Linked DNA regions of Homo sapiens: regions 1, 3 and 4 are each linked to region 2. Evidence: fine-mapped expression QTL. A gene starts in region 2. Each other region holds a variant in brackets. All regions are shown on one strand. Distances are between the middles of the regions. Region 1 has its middle 20 kb from the start of LINC01226. Region 2 holds the start of SERINC2 (serine incorporator 2). Region 3 overlaps LOC124903900 (a long non-coding RNA gene). Region 4 holds the start of LOC124903900 (a long non-coding RNA gene).

Region 1 (5,028 bases), 85 kb before region 2:
AGCTGTCCCCTCTAAACCTCGGCCACCCTGGACTGCTCAGCCCAAATCTCCCAGCCAGAAAAATGTACCTTCCTAGGTCTGCCCGCAGGACAGGTGCACAGAGAGGAGTCCGACCCCTGTTATAAGCGAATGCCGGCAATGATGAGAAGTGGAGGGAACCTAGAAACTTCCCATCCACTCTTTCCGCTCTGCAGATGGAAAGCCGTGGGGCCCAGAGATCTCCAGATCATTCAGCAAACCAGGAGTGAAACTGGGAGTAGGACCAAGGCCTCAGACTCCAACAGGGAGCTGGTTCCACCGCCTCAGAGACCAGTTGCTGTCTCCTGGGGTCGTGTCTCTTGCCCTCCACTGCAGATTTAAGCATCTCACTGGAAGTGTCTTCGAATGGAAGTGGGAGCCTGTGTGCGTCACTCAGGGTCTAGTCATCTCCCCACCCTCTCCCCTCCCTCCCTCTCCACGTGGACTGCTGAGGTCTCACCTGAGCTCTTCTGGCCCTCCCAGGCTGAAGCCACCACCTTGGGGCAGCCCCACTGCAGGGATCAGCTGTAATCTCCTGCAGGCTTACACCCCACCTCTGTGCTGTGACCCAGAACCTCCTCTGCCTGTTCCAGTGAAGGACAATCAACAGGGAGTGGGCTGCTCTCCAGGTTTTTGTCTGCCAGCCATGCCCAGGGCAGGAGGTGGGGAGGAGGGCAGAGATGACAGGGCTGTGAACCCCAAATATCTGAGACAGATCTCAGTCAATGTAGAAAGTTTATTTTGTCAAGCTTAAGGATGCACCCATCACACAGCCTCAGGAGGTCCTGACATGTGCCTAAGGTGGTCGGGGTACAGCTTGCTTTGATTCATAGGGAGCCAGGAGACATCAATCAATATGTGTAAGATGTACATTGGTTCAGTCTGGCAATGTGGGACAGCTTGAAGGCGGCAGGGGTGCTTCCAGGTCATAAGAGACAAAAGGTTGATAAGAGATGAAAGATTGCATTGAGTCCTTGATCAGCCTTCCACTGAATACACAATTTAATCTGACTCAGTGAATCTGCATTTTTACGTAAACAATAGGGCAGAGGAAACAATCAGATATGCATTTGTCTCAGGTGAGCAGAAGGATGACTTTCTGTCTGCACCTCTGAAGATCAGCTATTAGTTTACATTGCCAGGGTGAAATTCAACAGAACTGTTTTAGGATAAAGACCTTGAGGCCCACAACGAATTTTCTTGTGGGCAGTTTGTGAGGGAGGTATGTAGCTATCTTATTTAGGAATAAAATGGGAGGTGGGTTTGCCTGACATAGTTCCCAGCCTGATTTTTCCCTTGGCTTAGTGATTTGGGGATCCCGAGGCTTTATTTTCCTTTCAAAGGGCCCAAGTCTTCTTCTGCCTGGGGCAGCAGAGATAGGGGTCTTTCCCCAGAAACGAACCTGTTCTGAGACCTTGGACCAGCTGTTCTTCCTTTCTCCCGGCCTGCCTCTCGCTCACTGGCCCTCTATGGCCCTTTCTCCTTGGTATAGCAGAGGGCTTAATCCCAAGGGCTCGACATCAGCCTTGTTTACCACTTACCAAGCCTGGTGTGCCACTCGCAATGAATTTGCGACAGGCAAGTTAGTTGACTGCTCTGAACCTCAGTTTTTTCATCTGGAAAATGGGGCCTTAAGGCCAGTTATGAAGATTAAGATATAAAAAGAAAATATATACAAACTGCCTCACTCTCACCGCTGCTGTTTGTGTCTGTGTTTCTATCCATAGGAACTTTCCCTGCCAGATTGTATTGGTCCCTCTGCTTAAAACAGGGACCAAATCTGCATTGCTGGGTCCCCAGTGCCTAGGTTAAGACTTGGGCCGGGGCGTGGTGACTCATGCCTGTAATCTCAACACTTCGGGAGGCCAAGGTGGGTGGATAGATTGAGCCCAGTAGTTGGAGACCAGCCTGGGCAACATGGCAAAACCCTGTCTCTACAAAAAAATACAAAAATTAGCTGGCTGTGGTGGCACACGCCTGTGGTCCCAGCTACTTGGGAGACTGAGCAGGAGGATGGCTTGAGCCCAGGAGGTTGGGGCTGCAGTGAGCTGTGATCATGCCACTTCACTCCAGCACTCCAGCCTGGGCAATAGATACCATGTCTCAAAAAAAAAAAAAAAAAAAGCCTTGGCACAGAATTCAGTAAATATTTGTAGGATAAATTAATAAATGGATGTCACAGCTAACATATGAGATCTGGGATTTAGATCAACTCCTATCTGACTTCACACCCTGTAGGTATCCTGAACAGAAACATCAATGGGGCAGAATTGAGGGCCCAGAAGCAGAGCTGATAGCAAAAACTGGAACATATCACCAATCACCAAAGAAGGTGAAGGGGACAGAGAAGTGGTGCTGGGACAATAGGTAAACAGTTTGGAAAGTAAAGTCTGTTTGGAACCTCACTTCTCAATAGAATAAAAGTGAAATGGTTTAAAAAGTTAAATAAATAAA[T/C]ATATATATGATCATATGATTCCATTTATATAAAATATCCAGAATATACAAGTCCACAGAGACAGAGAGTAGATTTGTGGTTGCCTATGACTGGGGAAAGGGGAGAGAGGAATGGGGAGGGCCTGCTAGTGGGGACAGGGTTTCCTTCTGCGGTGGTGAAAATATTCTGCAATTAGATAGAGATGATGGCTGCTCGACTTGGCAAACATGCTAAAAACCACTGAATTGTATGCTTTGAGAGGTCAAATTTTATGGTATATGAATCATATCTCAACAAAGTTGTTTAAAAAAACAGATTGTGTGCTCGCTTCGGCAGCACATACACTAAAATTGGAACGATACAGAGAAGATTATCATGGCCCCTGCACAGGGATGACACGCAAATTCGTGAAGCGTTCCATATTTTTAATGATCAAGTGGGCTTCATCCCTCGGATGCAAGGCTGGTTCAACATATGCAAATCAATAAAAGTAATCCAGCATATAAACAGAACCAAAGACAAAAACCACATGATTATCTCAATAGATGCAGAAAAGGCCTTTGACAAAATTCAACAGCCTTTCATGCTAAAAACTCTCAATAAATTAGGTATTGATGGGACATATCTCAAAATAATAAGAGCTATTTATGACAAACCCACAGCCAATATCATACTGAATGGGCAAAAACTGGAAGCACTCCCTTTGAAAACTGGCACAAGACAGGGACGCCCTCTCTCACCACTCTTATTCAACATAGTGTTGGAAGTTCTGGCCAGGGCAATCGGGCAGGAGGAAGAAATAAAGGGTATTCATTAGGAAAAGAGGGAGTCAAATTGTCCCTGTTTGCACATGACATGATTGTATATTTAGAAAACTCCATCGTCTCAGCCCAAAATCTCCTTAAGCTGATAAGCAACTTCAGCAAAGTCTCAGGATACAAAATCAATGTGCAAAAATCACAAGCATTCTTATACACCAATAACAGACAAACAGAGAGCCAAATCATGAGTGAACTCCCATTTACAATTGCTTCAAAGAGAATAAAATACCTTGGAATCCAACTTACAAGGGATGTGAAGGACCTCTTCAAGGAGAACTACAAACAACTGCTCAATGAAATAAAAGAGGATACAAACAAATGGAAGAACATTCCATGTTCATGGATAGGAAAAATCAATATCGTGAAAATGGCCATACTGCCCAAGGTAATTTATAGATTCAATGCCATCCCCATCAAGCTACCAATGACTTTCTTCACAGAATTGGAAAAAACTACTTTAAAGTTCACATGGAACCAAAAAAGAGCCTGCATTGCCAAGACAATCCTAAGCCAAAAGAACAAAGCTGGAGGCATCACGCTACCTGACTTCAAACTATACTACAAGGCTACAGTAACCAAAATAGCATGGTACTGGTACCAAAACAGAGATATAGACCAATGGAACAGAACAGAGTCCTCAGAAATAATACCACACATCTACAACCATCTGATCTTTGACAAACCTGACAAAAACAAGAAATGGGGAAAGGATTTCCTATTTAATAAATGGTGCTGGGAAAACTGGCTAGCCATATGTAGAAAGCTGAAACTGGATCCCTTCCTTACACCTTATACTAAAATTAATTCAAGATGGATTAAAGACTTAAATGTTAGACCTAAAACCATAAAAACCCTAGAAGAAAACCTAGGCAATACCATTCAGGACATAGGCATGGGCAAGGACTTCATGTCTAAAACACCAAAAGCAATGGCAACAAAAGCCAAAATTGACAAATGGGATCTAATTAAACTAAAGAGCTTCTACACAGCAAAAGAAACTACCATCAGAATGAACAGGCAACCTACAGAATGGGAGAAAATTTTTGCAATCTACTCGTCTGAAAAAGGGCTAATATCCAGAATCTACAAAGAACTCGAACAAATTTACAAGAAAAAAACAAACAACCCCATCAACAAGTGGGCAAAGGATATGAACAGATACTTCTCAAAAGAAGACATTTATGCAGGCAACAGACACATGAAAAAATGCTCATCATCACTGGCCATCAGAGAAATGCAAATCAAAACCACAATGAGATACCATCTCACACCAGTTAGAATGGTGATCATTAAAAAGTCAGGAAACAACAGGTGCTGGAGAGGATGTGGAGAAATAGGAACACTTTTACACTGTTGGGGGGACTGTAAACTAGTTCAACCATTGTAGAAGACAGTGTGGCAATTCCTCAAGGATCTAGAACTAGAAATATGGTTTGACCCAGCCATCCCATTACTGGGTATATACCCAAAGTATTATAAATCATGCTGCTATAAAGACACATGCACACGTATGTTTATTGTGGCACTATTCACAACAGCAAAGACTTGGAACCAACCTAAATGTCCATCAATGATAGACTGGATTAAGAAAATGTGGCACATATACACCATGGAATACTATGCAGCCATAAAAAAGGATGAGTTCATGTCCTTTGTAGGGACATGGATGAAGCTGGAAACCATCATTCTCAGCAAACTATTGCAAAGACGAAAAACCAAGCACCGCATGTTCTCACTCATAGGTGGGAATTGAAC
Region 2 (5,028 bases):
TTCATCCTTTCCCTGTGCAACCTTAGGAAAGTCAGCTATCTTCTCCGGGCGGGTGGCAGTCTTCTCATCTGTAAACAGATGGTTTGAGCAGTCCTATCTGCTCTCAGCATTGTAGAATGCTGTAACTCAGAGACCAGCACTTGGCTTTGCATTGTCTCCAAATGGAATTCTCCACCCACCTTTCCTTGATGTTAGCAATAATTCCCACAAGGAGCACTCACGATATGCCAGGAACTGTGCCTCATCTCCCAACAGCATTGTGAGAAAGGCCCTGTTACTGTCAACTGCCAGATGGGGTGACCAAGGCACACAGGGCTGGCAGGCTGCCCCTCAACATCTCCACCCCCAGGCCAGCCCAGCAGGGCCTGTGCCTCACCAGGTGCAACCGATGGAAATCAGGTCCACTGTGGAAGCTCTGCCTCCCTCACCAGGAAGCAAACCCTTGTTGGCAGAGACCTGGCCCAAACCTTGAATTCTTTGGGCTGGGAGGGATTTCAGGCACCAGCTTGATTCCTCCTCCTGCACACGCACATGCACACGCACACACACACACGAAAAATGGAGGCCTAATGAGGCGAGAGGCTCTCTTGCCTCTCTGTGCTGTCTATGCTGATCTCATTCTCAGAAAAAGGCTGTAAAGTAAATCTCTAGACCCTCAGCTCTCCCCTACACCCCCTCCTCTCTCTCTCTCTCTCTCTCACACACACACACACACACACACACACACACACAACCCGTCAGGGACAAAGGAAAGCGAGTCCCGAGATTCAGCAGCCGCTGCAGCCCCTTCTCCCTCTCAGGGCCTCTTTGTGTGGGGCCAGAGGGGGAGGGGGCTGCCTGAATGAACCTCAGATTTAATGAGGGGAAGAGGAAAGGAGAGGGGGGCTGGGGAAAGGGAAGGGAGAACGGGCCTCCCAGCCGGGGTCTTGCTGGAGCCCCTCCCCTCTGCGGCTGCAGCTACAGAACAGAGGTTGGCCTCCCCACAGGTCCCGAACCCGCGACCGGGCACTCCCCGCGCACACCCGAACCTCCCTCGATTCCTGCTCTCCCAACCCAGAGTTCCGCCCGGTGGTCCGTGACGACCCGCACCCGCCTCACTCGAGGGCAGCTAAGAAAGTCCGGGGCTCCCTCCGCTCCCATCCCAGTCTCCGCGCTGGGGCCCAGATGATCCGGGGCGAGCTGGGGAAGTGCCTGAGAGGCAGCGCGAGCCAGACTGAGGACGGTAAAGGGACCGCAGAGAGACTGAGGGACGGACGGGCGGACGGGCAGACGGACAGAAGACAGCAGACGGACAAAGACAGTCGGACGAACGACGGACACAGACAGGAACCAGACAAATACGAACGGACAGGCGGAGCCCGAGCGACAGGAACAGGCGGACTGGCAGGCGGCCAGAGGGGTAGGGCAGGGCACTCGCCAGGAGGGACGGGGCCCGGGCGACCTACACAGAGAACCAGGGCGTCCGGGACGGGGACAGAGGCCACCCCGAGGACCGCCCCAAGTGGGGCGACGAGGGCCCACAGAGCTGCCCCGACCCCGGGCTCCAGGCTTAGTCTCTCCAGGTCCCAGGAGGGCGCCCGCCGAGGGCACTCCCCTCCTGCCCGCGGAAACCCGAGCCGGGACCGCAGCTGCCCGGCGCCTGCCGGCCAGGACTGAGCAGGGGGACGGGGGCAGCGGGATCCGGGTGCCGAGTGAAGGTCCAGGAGGGCGAGCAGGCGGGGCACCGGCCCAGAAAGACAAGTTTGCAGGAAGGAAAAAGAAGAAACTACTCGGAGCAGAACAGAAGAAAGTGAGGGCCCGCAGCAGGAACGGGCGGCGCGCGCGGGCGGGCGCCGGGGTCGGGACTCACGCAGCTGAGCAGGGAGCAGGCTCCCAGGCAGGCCCCCATGGCGGCGGCTCCCGGCTTCGGGCGCCCGGCGCCGGGCGCGGGGCGCGGACCTCGGGATCCGGGTGCCGGGCCTGGCCCCTCCCCGGCCCCGGCCCCGCCCCGGCCCCGCCCCACCTACCGAAGCCGCTCGACGCTTTCCGGCGGCGCTCGGGGCCTCCCCAGACTCACCTGGGGCAGGTGCGCCAGGAGGGACCCTAGGGAAGGGGCCGGTCGGGGATTCCCGCGGCCACGCGAGCGGCGCAACCTGACCCAATCGTGGCCCGGGCTCGCATCCTGCTCCAAAGTGAGCGTTCGGAAATCGACCTCGGTTTGAGCCCGTGTGACCCCAGGACACTGTCACCCTTGGGAACAGAAGCCAAGAGGTGGTCACCGCTGACTCCTCAGTGCTTGGCGCAGGGCCTCTGCTCAATACGTAGATGCTGAGGTTGAATGCTGAATGACTGGATAAAGAAACTTCGGCAAGTCACTGCACCTCTATGAGCCTCAGTTTCCCGGTCTGTAAAGTGAGGATACATACCTCACAGGGTGGTTACAACACATGGTAGGTGCTTGACAAATGTAAGCCCCCATCGTCACTGTTTTCTTCTTCCTTTTTAAGAGACAGGGTCTTGCTCTGTCACCCAGGCTGGAGTGCAGTGGTGCAAACATAGCTCACTGCAGCCTCGACCTCCTGGGCTCAAGTGATCCTCCTGCTTCAGGCTCCTGAGTAGCTGGGACTACAGGTGCATGCCACCATGCCCACCTACTGCTTCTTCTAAGACCCCAGCCTCTCACTCTAAACCCATCCTCCCTTCTCTCCATCTGTTCTTCAAACTCCACTGACTCCCAACAGCCTGCTGGGAGCTACACACTCCCTACAGCCACCCCTGCTTGGTGGCTTATCACTCCCTAGGGATGCCCAAACTGGTCCCTAGCTAAGGAGGTCAGAAGGTGGGGAGGGGCGGCCACATTCCTGACAGATGGCTTTCCAGGGGTAGGTGTGAGAGACCCAGAAGTAGGGCTCTGTAATTAGTCTCCCTTCACCCTTAGCCCTGTCCTCAGCCACCTCTGGACAAGATAATGTTAGGGAAAGAAGTCTCTGTGCCTCGAAGCTGGCCCCAGGGCCAAAGAGCTGGTTGACTGCATCCTTGGCTGATTCACTGGGCGCCAGGCTTAGCCATTAATTGCACCAGGACTGTTCCACAAACACACCCTATACTTTTCCTCCTCCGCACTTTTGCCCACACAATGCCCTCCTCTTTTTTTTTTTTTTTTTTTTTTTTTTTGAGACAGGGTCTCACTCTGTCACCCAGGCTGGAACACAGTGGCCCAATCATGGCTCACTGCAGCTTCAACCTCCTGGACCCAAGTGATCCTCCCACCTCAGCCTCCCAAGTAGCTGTGACCACCAGTGTGTACTACCACACCCAGCTAATTTTTTAAAAATTTTGTGTAGAGATGAGGTCTCCTTATGTTGTCCAGGCTAGTCTCGAACTCCTGGGCTTAAGCAATCCTCCTGCCTTGGCCTCCCAAAGTGCTGGTATTACAGATGTGAGGCACTGCACCTGGCAGATGCCCTCCTCTTAAAGGTCCTTCTCCTTATCCCTCTTTCTCCCCTTTGAAGCTTGCTCACATGCCATACCTCTCAGTGAAGAGAGCCACCACCCTCACCCCCAACCCACTACCTGGTTCCATTAGGAATGAACATCCTCCTGATTCCCCCAAGCCTCCAAACAATATGGGCCTCCCTTATGGCCTCACAAACAACCCGAGCACATGCCCAACTTTCCCCCGTGGTACCATTTGAGCCCCACAACAGCCCTGAGAAGTCGATTAATTCCCCACCCACTCGTTTACAGATGAGGAAACCGAGAAACAAAGAAGTAGTGACACGCGAAATGTAAATCAAGCGTCGAATAAACGTTGACTGTGATCACTGTGGTTGTTGTTACTATTGCTGAAGGCCACACAGCTCAGAAGAAACAGAGCTGAAAGGCAACCTGGCCTGGCTTTCACCCTGATGTCCTACTGCTTCCCTTGAAAAAGTAGAGGTGACAATATCTAGTCTTCCTATTTTTCTGTCCAGCAATATTTCAGTCCTTCCCTAACCCGAGGCCTTTAGGGGACTGTGAGCCACCCAAGAACGGTCTGCTCTCTGGCCACCCCCTCTCCTACCCAGAGCACAGTACAGGGCCTGGCACACAGTCAAGCAGTGAATGCTTACTGGATGAATGTCTGACCTTTTACCATAAGTCCACTTTCCTCCTTCTTCTGTGACTGACAGTCTGATCCAAAAACATACCCTACACAGTCATCTTCTGCACGGAAATCCTTTAGACTGAAATGCCACCAAGCAGTCTCAAGTGAGCCCTCCTCACATGCTCCCGTCCCAGGGTCAGCTCCCTTGGACACTTCTGCTCTAAGAGCTGAATTTTTCACCCCCAACCCCTCCCTATCCATGACCTAGAACAGTAGAAAGCACCCAAGACCAAGAGGATCAACCCCTGGGATTCTTGTTCTGCCACAGATGACCATGCCCCATGCCATCCTTGGGGGGCCACTTCACCCCACAAGGGGTGTCCGTCCATCCCCTTCCCGGAAATAGGTAGGGTTATTCTGTTTAACCTCACAGAGCATGTGTGAGCATCTGCAAAGACACTCTCAGAAATAAGCAGTTATCTGCAAGGAACGAGGGATTAAGATGACTGTATGTGTAAAGGGATAGCCACTCTGACTTCAGGCTAAAATTTTCCAGAGCAAGGTAATATGCTGCCACTGTCCTGGCCTCCTGCCTGCCCAAGACCAAGGCCGGCTGGGCTCTCACACGCCCAGCATGGAAGGCATAACTCACTGTGTGGCTGGGTCCGGGTGACTCCTCCTCTCTCAGCCTCATGCTTCTCATCTGTAAAATAAAGATAAGTTTTTTTACCCCAGCTATCTGAGGGGACTACTGAGGAGATGAAGTGAGGACATGGATAAAGAGCTTCATTTCTTGGTGTCCTGGCCAGCCCATCAGCCTTTACTCCCAGATTTGAACCTCCTGCATGGGGCCAGAGTAGCTCTGTCTCTTGCACCCCCAAAAGCACAGTCACAGTCAGCAGCTATGTGATACTGGCAAGTCACCCAACCACTCTGAGCCTCACTGGAGGGTTGGAATTCAG
Region 3 (5,028 bases), 37 kb before region 2:
TAGAGAACCCAGAAATAAACCCAAATACTTACAACCAACTGATCTTCAACAAAGCAAACAAAAGCAAAAAGTGAGGAAAGGACCCTCTATTCAACAAATGATGCTGGGATAATTGGCAAGCCACAGGTAGGAGAAAGAAACTGGATCCTTATCTCTCACCTTATACAAAAATCAACTCAAGATAGATCAAGGAGTTAAATCTAAAACCTGAAATTATGAATATTCTAGAAGATAACGTCAGAAAAAATCTTTGTAGACATTGGCTTAGGCAAGGATTTAATGACCAAGAACCCCAAAGCAAATGCTATAAAAACAATGATAAATAGGTTGGACTTAATTAAATGAAAGAGCTTTAGAACAGCAAGAGGAACAGTCAACAGAGTTAACAGACAACCCACAGAGTGAGAGAAAATCTTTACAATCTATACATCTGACAAAGGACTAATACCCAGAATCTACAACAAACTCAAACAAATTAGCAAGAAAAAAGCAAACAATCCCATCAAAAAGTGGGATAAGGACATGAATAGACAATTCTTAAAAGAAGATATGCAAATGGCCAACAAACATATGAAAAAATGCTCAAGAACACTAATGATCAGGGAAATGCAAATCAAAACCACAATGCAATACCACCTTACTTCTGCAAGAATGGCCATAATAAAAAAATAACAGTTGTTGGTGTGGATGCAGTGAAAAGTAAACACTTCTACATTGCTGATGGTAATGGAAACTAGTACAACCACTATAGAAAACAGTGTGGAGATTTCTTAAAGAACTGAAAGTAGAACTACCATTTGATCCAGCAATCCCACAACTGGGTATCTACCCAGAGGAAAAGAAATCATTCTATGAAACAGATAACTTGCACACGTATGTTTATAGCAGCACAGTTGCAAAAATGTGGAACCTACCCAAATGCCCACCAATCAATGAGTGGATAAAGAAACTGTGGTATATATATATGACGGAATACTACTCAGCCATATAGGAATGAATTAATGGCATTCACAGCAACCTGGATGGGATTGGAGACTATTATTCTAAGTGAAGTAACTCAGGAACGGAAAACCAAACATCGTGTGTTCTCACTCATAAGTGGGAGCTAAGCTGTGAGGATGCAAAGGCAGAAGAATGACACAAGGACTTTGGGGACTCAGTGGGAAAGTGTAGGAAGTGGGTGAGGGATAAAAGACTACAAATTAAATTCAGCGTATACTGCTCAGGTTACGTATGGGTGCACCAAAATCTCACAAATCACCACGAAAGAACTTGCTCATGTAACCAAATACTACCTGCTCCCCAAAAACCTATGGAAATGAAAAACTAAAAGAAAAAAAAAAGAAATACTTGTCAAAAAAATGAATGAGTGAATGAATGAACATGTATAATAGACACATTAGCTCTCCTGGGTAGCTTCCTCTGTAAGGAGGAACTGAAGCCTGATAAAACACTGGCATTTTGTAATAATGAATATTCTTTAAAGCCTCAGTTCCCTTGCCTATAAAAGAGAAAATTGTATAGTACGTACTTAACAGAATTATGTGAGGATTTAATGAGACATGTCACATAAAGAGCTTATCACAGTGTCTGAAACTTAGAAGTCACTCAACTAGTGGTAGTGATTATTATGAAGAATCATATGTGGTATGTGGTGTTTGTTATAAGTCTATAGGTTTAGTCATAAAGTCTTGCATTTGAAATTAAGAAGAGGAAAAATAAAGCCAACATCAGAGATGTCAGAACAGGGAGATGACAAGAAATCAGGCTCTTGGTGACACTGTCAAACAGCTTAATCAAGTCTCATCTGATGCCAGACCTACCTCTGACCTTCTTAGTCACACGAATCAATAAATTTTCTTTACTTTTTAAAGCACTTTGAATTGGGCTTTCTGTTGGCTATACTTCAAAGCGTCCTAAGTGATACACAAGGTCATGAGCCAAAACACATGTTTAATCAATCCATACAACAAACATTTAATCAGCACCTACACTATACCAAGTCATTAGACAGACTCAAAGGTTAATAGAGGCCAGATGCAGTAGCTCGTGCCTGTAATCCCAGCACTTTGGGAGGCCAAGGTGGGTAGATCACTTGAGGTCAAGAGTTAGAGACCAGCCTGGCCAACATGAAAATACAAAAATTAGCCAGGTGCCGTGGTGCACACCTGTAGTCCCAGCTACTCAGGAGGCTGAGGCAGGAGAATTGCTCCAACCTGGGAAGTTGAGGTTGCAGTGAGCCAAGATGCCAAGATCATGCCACTGCACTCCAGCCTGGTGACACAGCGAGACTCTGTCTTAAAAAAAAAAAAAA[G/AG]AAGGTTAATAGAACTCTGCCCTCCTGGAACCCACTCCATCCAGTAAGAAAGACAGAAAAGAACATAATATCACCATACTTTGTGTGGTTTGATGTGATGTGATGGATACATTGGGTCAGCACCTCCTTCTAGCATGCTATGCCAGGGTCCCTGGCAGCCAGGACTCTGACAATTAAGACTCAGCCAATCAGATTCAGTCACACAAGATGTAGAAAATGGAAGGAAGGTGAAGGCCATCTTCCTGTTGTTTTTGCCATTTCTGCTAACAACACAGTTGTGAAGACATCTGGTTTTTCTGTCGTACAGTTGGTAAAGATGTGGTTTTCCTAGCTTAGTGGACATCAAGAATAAGACATGAACACGCATTTATTCTGCTGCCAAGGACTGTGGCAGGCGTGGTGTGATGGTGTGGCACATTAGTAGCAGCCTCCTGATAATGGCGGCTCCCTGGTGGTAGCTGTGATGCATTCTGGAGCCGGTGGCTTTCTGATTACAGCAGTTTTCTTGATGACCTAGTCCCGGGAGTTATTCCTGAAACTTCAACTCAAAGTCTGTTTCTTCAGCCTTTGGTGAAGTCTTTATTTTTTTAAACCAGTTTGAATAGGGCTTTCTGTTGGCTATAGTTCAAAGCATCCTAAATGATACACAAAGCCATGAGCCAAAAACACATGTTTAATTATTTAACACCCTAATAAACTCCTTTCTACCTAAACCAGCTAATGTGGATCATGTTGTATGACACCACCATTTAACCTTCCAAAGCCACACCATTGGATAAACTGTTGACATTCCCTTTCACCAGCTTACCTCCACTCATTTCCAATCCATCACCAAGCCCTGTTGATTTCACCTCCATCCTCTTCCTCCACGACCACTACCCTCATCCAGGCCACCATCATCTCCTCTTGGTTTGCCAATATTCTTCTACACATTCCCCTGGATCCACTCCGCCACCAATCCATCGTCCACAATGCATCCAGAGTGAGCATTTCTGAAGGAAAATCTGAGGCTCATTTAAAATCCTCCAATAACCAGAACAGAGAGCCCAGACACAGTAATACATATACAACTACCTGATTGATGACAGTTCTCCTGTGGGAGGGAAGGGATTGTCTTTTCCGTAAGTAGCGCTGGGTCGATATGGAAAAACATGGACTTTGATTTCTACTTCACACTATAACAAGAAGTAATGAGATACATCATAATCATATCCCTAAACGTAAAAACAAAACAATAAAGATTCCAGAAGAAAAAATAAAATAATATCCGACCTTGGAGGGGGCAAAATTTTCTTAATAAAGGCAAAATAAGCGTCATAAAAGAAAAGATTTAGTCCAGGTGCGGTGGCTCACGCCTGTAATCCCAGTGCTTTGGGAGGCCAAGGCGGGCAGATCACCTGCGGTCAGGAGTTCAAGATCAGTCTGGCCAACATGGTGAAACCCCGACTCTAGTAAAAATATAAAATTTAGCTGGGTGTGGTGGCACGTGCCTGTAATCTCAGCTACTTGGGAGGCTGAGGCAAGAGAATTGCTTGAACCTGGGAGGCAGAGGTTTCAGTGAGCCAAGATCGTGCCATTGCACTCCAGCCTGGGCAACAAGAGTGAAACTCCATCTCAAAAATAATAATAATAATAATAAATAATTTTAAAAACTAAAGAAAATGTTAAAAATTAGACTTCTTTGAAATTAAGAATCACTGTTCATCAGAAGACAACATTAAGAGGGTGAAAAGATAAGACAGAGATTATGAGAAGATATTTGCAAAATATATATCCACCAAGGACTCACTTCCCATGTATCTGCTACAAATCAGCAGGGAAAAAACCTCCCAATTTAAAAATGGGCTAAAGAGTTAAATAGGCACTTTACACACAGCAAAAAAGGATATTCAGTAGTCCAATAAGCATATGAAACAGTGTCCAACGTCAGTGGTCATGAAGGAGATGCAGATTAAAATCACAAGATACTTCTATACCCCTGCTTTGGACCTCGGCTCACCCCTAACGGAAGTGCGTGACATTGGCTATCTTTCTATCATGGCCCTTGACACATTTACAACGTACACGTTTGTGTGGCTACTGGATTTACGTCCACCTCCTCCACCAGATCTCAGCCCCCTAATGGCAAGTGTGACATCTGCTGCTGATCCTTGTGTAAACAAGGCCTGCTATAGAATAGGTGTGTGACGCACCGCTAGTGGATGAATGAATGAAGGAATGAAAAAGGCACTATCATTGCCATTTTACAGATCAGGAAACTGAGTCTCCTTTGTTTGAGAAATTTGTCCAAAGTCCCATTACTCGCCTGTGGTTACTATTGCACTTCAGGGTTCAGATCCTACTAGGGAGTAGATGAGTTGTCCTGCCTTGGTTACTGAAAGTTCTAAAGACTCTCAGTGGGGGTGGCATCTTATTCAGATGTTCCTAGGTGATCTGAACAGAAAAGCCTTGTAAGTATAGTAAGATGAGGGCGTGGCTCAGGCTGATCTGTCCTAGGCACAAGCCAAGTTAAGATTTTGTTGTTGTGGTCCAATTCAGGAAGAGACCTGCCTAGTGGACATTCTGGTTTTCTGCTCAGGGGAGAGTCAGGGTGAAGGAGGTCACAGTGTCCTCCCTTGCACCTCTCTGAGCAGCCACTGGCATGGTGTAGCCTGATTTCCGTGTGAGACATCCACACATTCACAAACACAATTTTAGATACCACTCCTAGGTGT
Region 4 (5,028 bases), 57 kb before region 2:
GGAGGTATTACAACCAACACCACAGAAATACAAAAACTCATTCAAGGCTACTATGAACACCTTTACACACATAAACTAGAAAACCTAGCAGAGATGCATAAATTCCTGGAAAGATACAACCCTCCTGGCTTAAATCAGGAAGAACTAGATATTCTTGTTAAAGATCGTGAACTCCAAGTTTCTTTTCAAAGAATCACTATGTCAGTATGTTCAGCTCTCTTTATTCTCCATTTTAAAGTCTAACTTCCTGGTTCTATTGCCCCGCTTGCCTCTAGTTTCAGTAAACAAGTTTCCTGCCAGTTCTAATCAGTAGTTCACATCTGTTCCCCTGGTCACCTGCTTTGTCCTGAGTCACCCCTGGTCACCTGCTCCATCTTGAGTCACCCCTGTCACCTGCTCTGACCTGAATCATCCTGAGTCAACTGTTCTGTAACCACCCCTCCCGCCAAACTTCTCACCCTGTCACTCCAGCTTGTACCCCTGCTCTCTTTAAAATAGCCAATCGGAATTAGCTTACACTGTGCGGTCCAATCCTAGCCAATAGGGGAATGACACAACAGCAGGGACTACCTGCACCAGGAATACGAACCGCTTCCCTCCCCTTGTTCAGGTGTGCTTTCGCCATTACTCCAACCACGAGTCGCACCCTTCTATAGAAGTAAAAATTACCTGGCTGAGAAAATTAAATTTATGTTCAAGTGCTATTTCTCTGCAGCACCAAGGAACAGGCATTTGTTTCTAACAATCTCGTGGCCCATATGGGGAGCTATTCTCCTCTAGGGGTGGCCTCTATTCCTCTCTCACGCCCCACTGCCTTGTTGCGGTGGCCTCAAGAGTCAGGAATCGAGACTCACCTGGTGTGACAAATAAACCTGGACTCAGCAATGTCGAAAGAAACCAGCCGGCGACCCAGGGGAAAGGATCCTCACACACCACAGTGACCAGGCAACTCTGTGCACAGACCGAGGAAGGAAACGCCTGGGAGCCAGCAAAGTATTTCCTTGGTGGTTGGGACAGACCAAGGTAAGAGAAGCCACAGGGGGTGGTGGTATTCCTTGATCAGGACATATCAAGGTAAGAAAAGACACGGAGGAGGTGGGGCGGTGAAGTATTCCCTGGTTGGGGTATCTTGAGGGTTAAAAATAGGCAAGACATTTCTAGCAAGGGGAATTGAGCCTCACACTAAAAATGGGAAATACCCCAAGTAAGGTAAGGGATAAAAAGGATACACTAGCAATGATAATATTCCCCCTAATAATCCGCTCAGCCTAATGATAAAATATTAGAAGGGTAATGAAAGGACCAAAAACAAGAAAAAGCAGCTGCTGTCCCAGACCCTTCTCCTATCCCTGTTGTCCCTCTCCTTATAATTCTGCCTCTTGGGAATGTTCCCAAGAGCCCACTCACGACCAGCCTGAGTACCCTTCCCTAAAAGGACTTCACACGAGATAGAGCAATGTAAAAAGGATATTCAGAACTTCCCTTTCCCCTCTTCTCAGGGGAAGAAAGAGGCATGATCCATAGGGCTGCAATGGGAGCCTAGGAACCATGAACACCCCGCCCCCGGCTTCCGGCCAAAACGTTCCTACAGCGGATCAAAAATTTCCCACCCAAGACCCCTGGTGGGACAATAACAATGCAGCCAACCAAGAAAATATGCAAGACCTTAAGGAATTGATAATAAAGGGGATTAAAGAATCAGTACCCCGAACCCAGAATCTTACCCAAACATTTGATATACAGCAAGGGAAAGATTAAGGGCCTATAGAATTTTTAGACAGATTAAAGGAATAAATGAGAAAATATACTGGTCCAGGTCTCGAGGATCCCCTTGGACAGGGAATGTTAAAACTTCATTTTGTCACTAACAGTTGGCCAGATATTAACAAGAAATTACAAAAGATAGGGAACTAGAAAGATAAACCTATAGAAGAGCTTCTAAGAGAAGCCCAAAAAGTATATGTAGGAAGAGATGAAGAAAAACAAAAGCAGAGGGCAAAAATTCTGCTGTCCACCATACAACAAAGTACCCAGGGGGCAAGAACCTATAAAGAACCTAGACCCCCACTCTCCAGGCAACATAAAGGGTACAAAAGAGTAAAGCCAGGAGACTCAAAGGTAGAGAAAAAAATCTTAGAGGCGAGAGAAAGACTGACAGAGGGGACAGAGGAAGTCAGAGAGAGAGAGAGGGAAAGAGACAGAGGAAGTCAGAGAGAGAGGGAAAGAGACAGAGGAATTCAGAGAGAGAGAGAGAGAGATAGGGAGAGGAAAAGGGAAAGAGGACAAAACAAATGCTTCAAATTAAAAATAGGTCACTTCAAAAAAGAATGTCCCAAGTGGGAAAAAGAATAAAGTCATATGTAAAAGCAAATCAGCTAATATTAACTTTCTGCTAATTCTGGAAGCAGGGACAAATCTATAAGGAAGAGATTTAATGCTAAAATTAGGCTTAGGCCTCGAAATCAATCATAGAAAATTCCTCCTTTCCCTAAACTTACCACCACAGCAAAAGATGGGAAGCAAGGAAAGTTACAGATTCCTCCAATTCATGTTAAATTAAAAAAAAAAACTATTAAAAACACCTGGGGAAGTAGTA[A/C]AGAGAAAGCAATGTACCCTATTTCTTTGAAAACTAGGGTAAATTTAAGACCTATAATTGATAATTGAAGGTCGTCTTGGTGTTGGGCTTCTTAAACCCTGTGTGTCTCCCTATAACACTCCAATATTGCCTGTAAAGAAGCCAGATGGGGGCCAGGCGCAGTGGCTCACACCTGTAATCCCAGCACTTTTGGAGGCCAAGGCACGTGGATTACAAGGTCAGGAGATTGAGACCATCCTGGCTAACACAGTGAAACCCCGTCTCTACTAAAAATACAAAAAACGAGCTGGGCGTGGTGGCAGGTGCCTGTGGTCCCAGCTACTCGGGAGGCTGAGGCAGGAGAATGGTGTGAACCTGGGAAGCGGAGCTTGCAGTGAGCTGAGATTGCGCCACTGCACTCCAGCCTGGGTGATAGAGTGAGACTCTGTATCAAAAAAAAAGAAGCCAGACGTGTCATACCAGTTAGTGCAAGACCTTGGAGCTATTAATCAAATAATCCAAACTACCCACCCTATTGTTCCCAATCCTTATACTATTACAGTCACCAGTGGTTTACAGTAATAGATTTAAAAGATGCTTTCTGGGCTTGTCCATTAGCAGAGACAGCTGGGACCTATTTGCCTTTGAATAAGAAGACCCTCACTCTGGTTGAAAATAGCAATACTGATAGTCTTACCCCAAGGGTTTACGGAGTCTCCAAATTTATTTAGTCAAATATTAGAACAAGTCACTTAATTAGCAAAGATAAACAGAAAATTGAGCTTGAACGGATTGAAGGCATAATATCCTTCCCTCTGCTGGAGACTAAACAAGAACTTAAAACATTTTAGGATTAGTTGGGTACTGTCATCTATGGATAGATTCTTATGCCCTAAAAACAAAACCCTATACAGAAAGCTCATGCAAGATGGGCCAAACCCTCTCATTTGGCAATTACCAGAAATCCAACAGGTGGAAAGGTTAAAACATCTATTAGTGGCCGGGCACGGTGGCTCATGCCTGTAATCCCAGCACTTTGGGAGGCCGAGGCGGGTGGATCATGAGGTCAGGAGATTGAGATCATCCTGTCTAACACGATGAAACCCCGTCTCTACCAAAAATACAAAAAATTAGCCATGCGTGGTGGCGGGCACCTGTAGTCCCAGCTACTCAGGAGGCTGAGGCAGGAGAATGGTGTGAACCCGGGAGGCAGAGCTTGCAGTGAACCAAGATCACGCCACTGCACTCCAGCCTGCGCGACAGAGCAAGACTCTGTCTCAAAAACAAAACAAAGCAAAAACATCTATTAGTAACTGCCCCATCCTAGCTTTACCCTCCTTAAGCAGCCATTCCATCTTTTTGTCAGTGTAAACAAGGGCATAGCCTTAGAAATACCCAAAAGCACAGAGGCCACTGACAACCTGTACCCTTCCTATGAAAAATCCTTAACCCAGTAAACTGTGGATGGCCCAAATGCATTCAGTCTGTAGCAGCAACTGCTTTGCTAAGAGAATAAAGTAGAAAACTAACTTTTAGAGGAAACCTCATTGTGAGCACACCTCACCAGGTCAGAACTATGCTAAGTCAAAAAGCAAAAATGTAGCTTACTGACTCAAGAATCTTAAAGTATGAGGCTATTCTGTAAGAAAAAGATGATTTAACATTCACCACTGATAATTTGCTTAACCCAGCAGGTTTCCTAACAGGGGATCTAAATCTTAATTAATTACCATACAAAGGTCTGACCAGACCTAGGAGAAACTCCCTTCAGGACAGGACGACACTTATTTATAGATGGTTCCTCCTGGGTAATTGAGGGAAAAAGACACAATGGGTATTCGGTAATTAACAGAGAAACTCTCATAGAAATAGAGCTAGGAAAATTGCCTAATAATTGGTCTGCTCCAATGTGTGAGCTGTTTGCACTCAGCCAAGCCTTAAAGTACTTACAGAACCAGGAAGGACCATCTATACTGATTCTAAGTATGCCTTTGGAGTGACTCATACATTTGGAAACAGCTGGACTGAACGAGGTCTTATTAATAGCAAAGGTGAAGACCTGGTCCACAAGGAATTAATCACCCAAGTATTAAATAACCTTAAGTTGTCAAAAGAAATAGCTGTTGTCCATGTCCCTGGACACCAGAAAAGCCTTTCTTTAATTAAAATCCCAAATTTACAAGATTTTCCACAAAAGTAAAGTTTGCTGTTAGAAGTAAATGCTTATTTCTCAGTGCCGCAAGGAAAACCAGCATTCAGACAAAAAAAAATTCTCAGCAAGGCAATTTTACTTTCTCCAGAAAGGATGCTACTCATCAGCAATCTCGCCATGAAAGCACACTGAATAAAGAAAGGCAGGAATATTTATCCCTTATTGGGTCCTTACTGCTGTGTCCTATCTCCATTGGTTGGAGCTGGACCTCACAGTCTAAGCTAAACCTGATTGGCTAAAA

Evidence for each region. PIP is the estimated chance that this variant, and not a neighbour inherited with it, causes the effect. A credible set is the group of variants that fine-mapping cannot tell apart.
Region 1: its variant is the best candidate, but not a certain one, in a credible set for the expression of SERINC2 in whole blood (INTERVAL, PIP 0.70).
Region 3: its variant is the best candidate, but not a certain one, in a credible set for the expression of SERINC2 in whole blood (INTERVAL, PIP 0.87).
Region 4: its variant is fine-mapped to the expression of SERINC2 in whole blood (INTERVAL, PIP 0.93).

The regions. Positions count from the first base shown.
Region 1 is chr1:31,495,428-31,500,455 of GRCh38, reverse strand. It overlaps the pseudogene RNU6-40P and the pseudogene LDC1P. Among named protein-coding and RNA genes, the nearest start is that of LINC01226, 20 kb to the left of the region's middle. The variant T/C (reference allele first, on the strand shown) is at 2,473.
Region 2 is chr1:31,410,126-31,415,153 of GRCh38, reverse strand. It overlaps SERINC2 (serine incorporator 2), which reads right to left and starts at 1,941. Exons shown (of 10, transcript NM_178865.5): 1 at 1,850-1,941. The coding sequence starts at 1,888. RefSeq lists enhancers at 1-422, 1,693-2,193 and silencers at 1,917-1,976, 2,057-2,126.
Region 3 is chr1:31,446,822-31,451,849 of GRCh38, reverse strand. The region is part of intron 1 of LOC124903900 (a long non-coding RNA gene); the gene reads left to right. LOC105378625 (a long non-coding RNA gene) reads right to left here. Exons shown (of 4, transcript XR_007065578.1): 1 at 3,389-5,028; 2 at 3,123-3,306; 3 at 2,394-2,949; 4 at 1,201-2,297. Among named protein-coding and RNA genes, the nearest start is that of SERINC2, 36 kb to the right of the region's middle. The variant G/AG (reference allele first, on the strand shown) is at 2,315.
Region 4 is chr1:31,467,061-31,472,088 of GRCh38, reverse strand. LOC124903900 (a long non-coding RNA gene) reads left to right here and starts at 613. Exons shown (of 2, transcript XR_007065585.1): 1 at 613-1,023. It overlaps LOC105379772 (a long non-coding RNA gene), which reads right to left and starts at 971. Exons shown (of 3, transcript XR_001737618.2): 1 at 855-971. RefSeq lists an enhancer at 128-1,327. The variant A/C (reference allele first, on the strand shown) is at 2,597.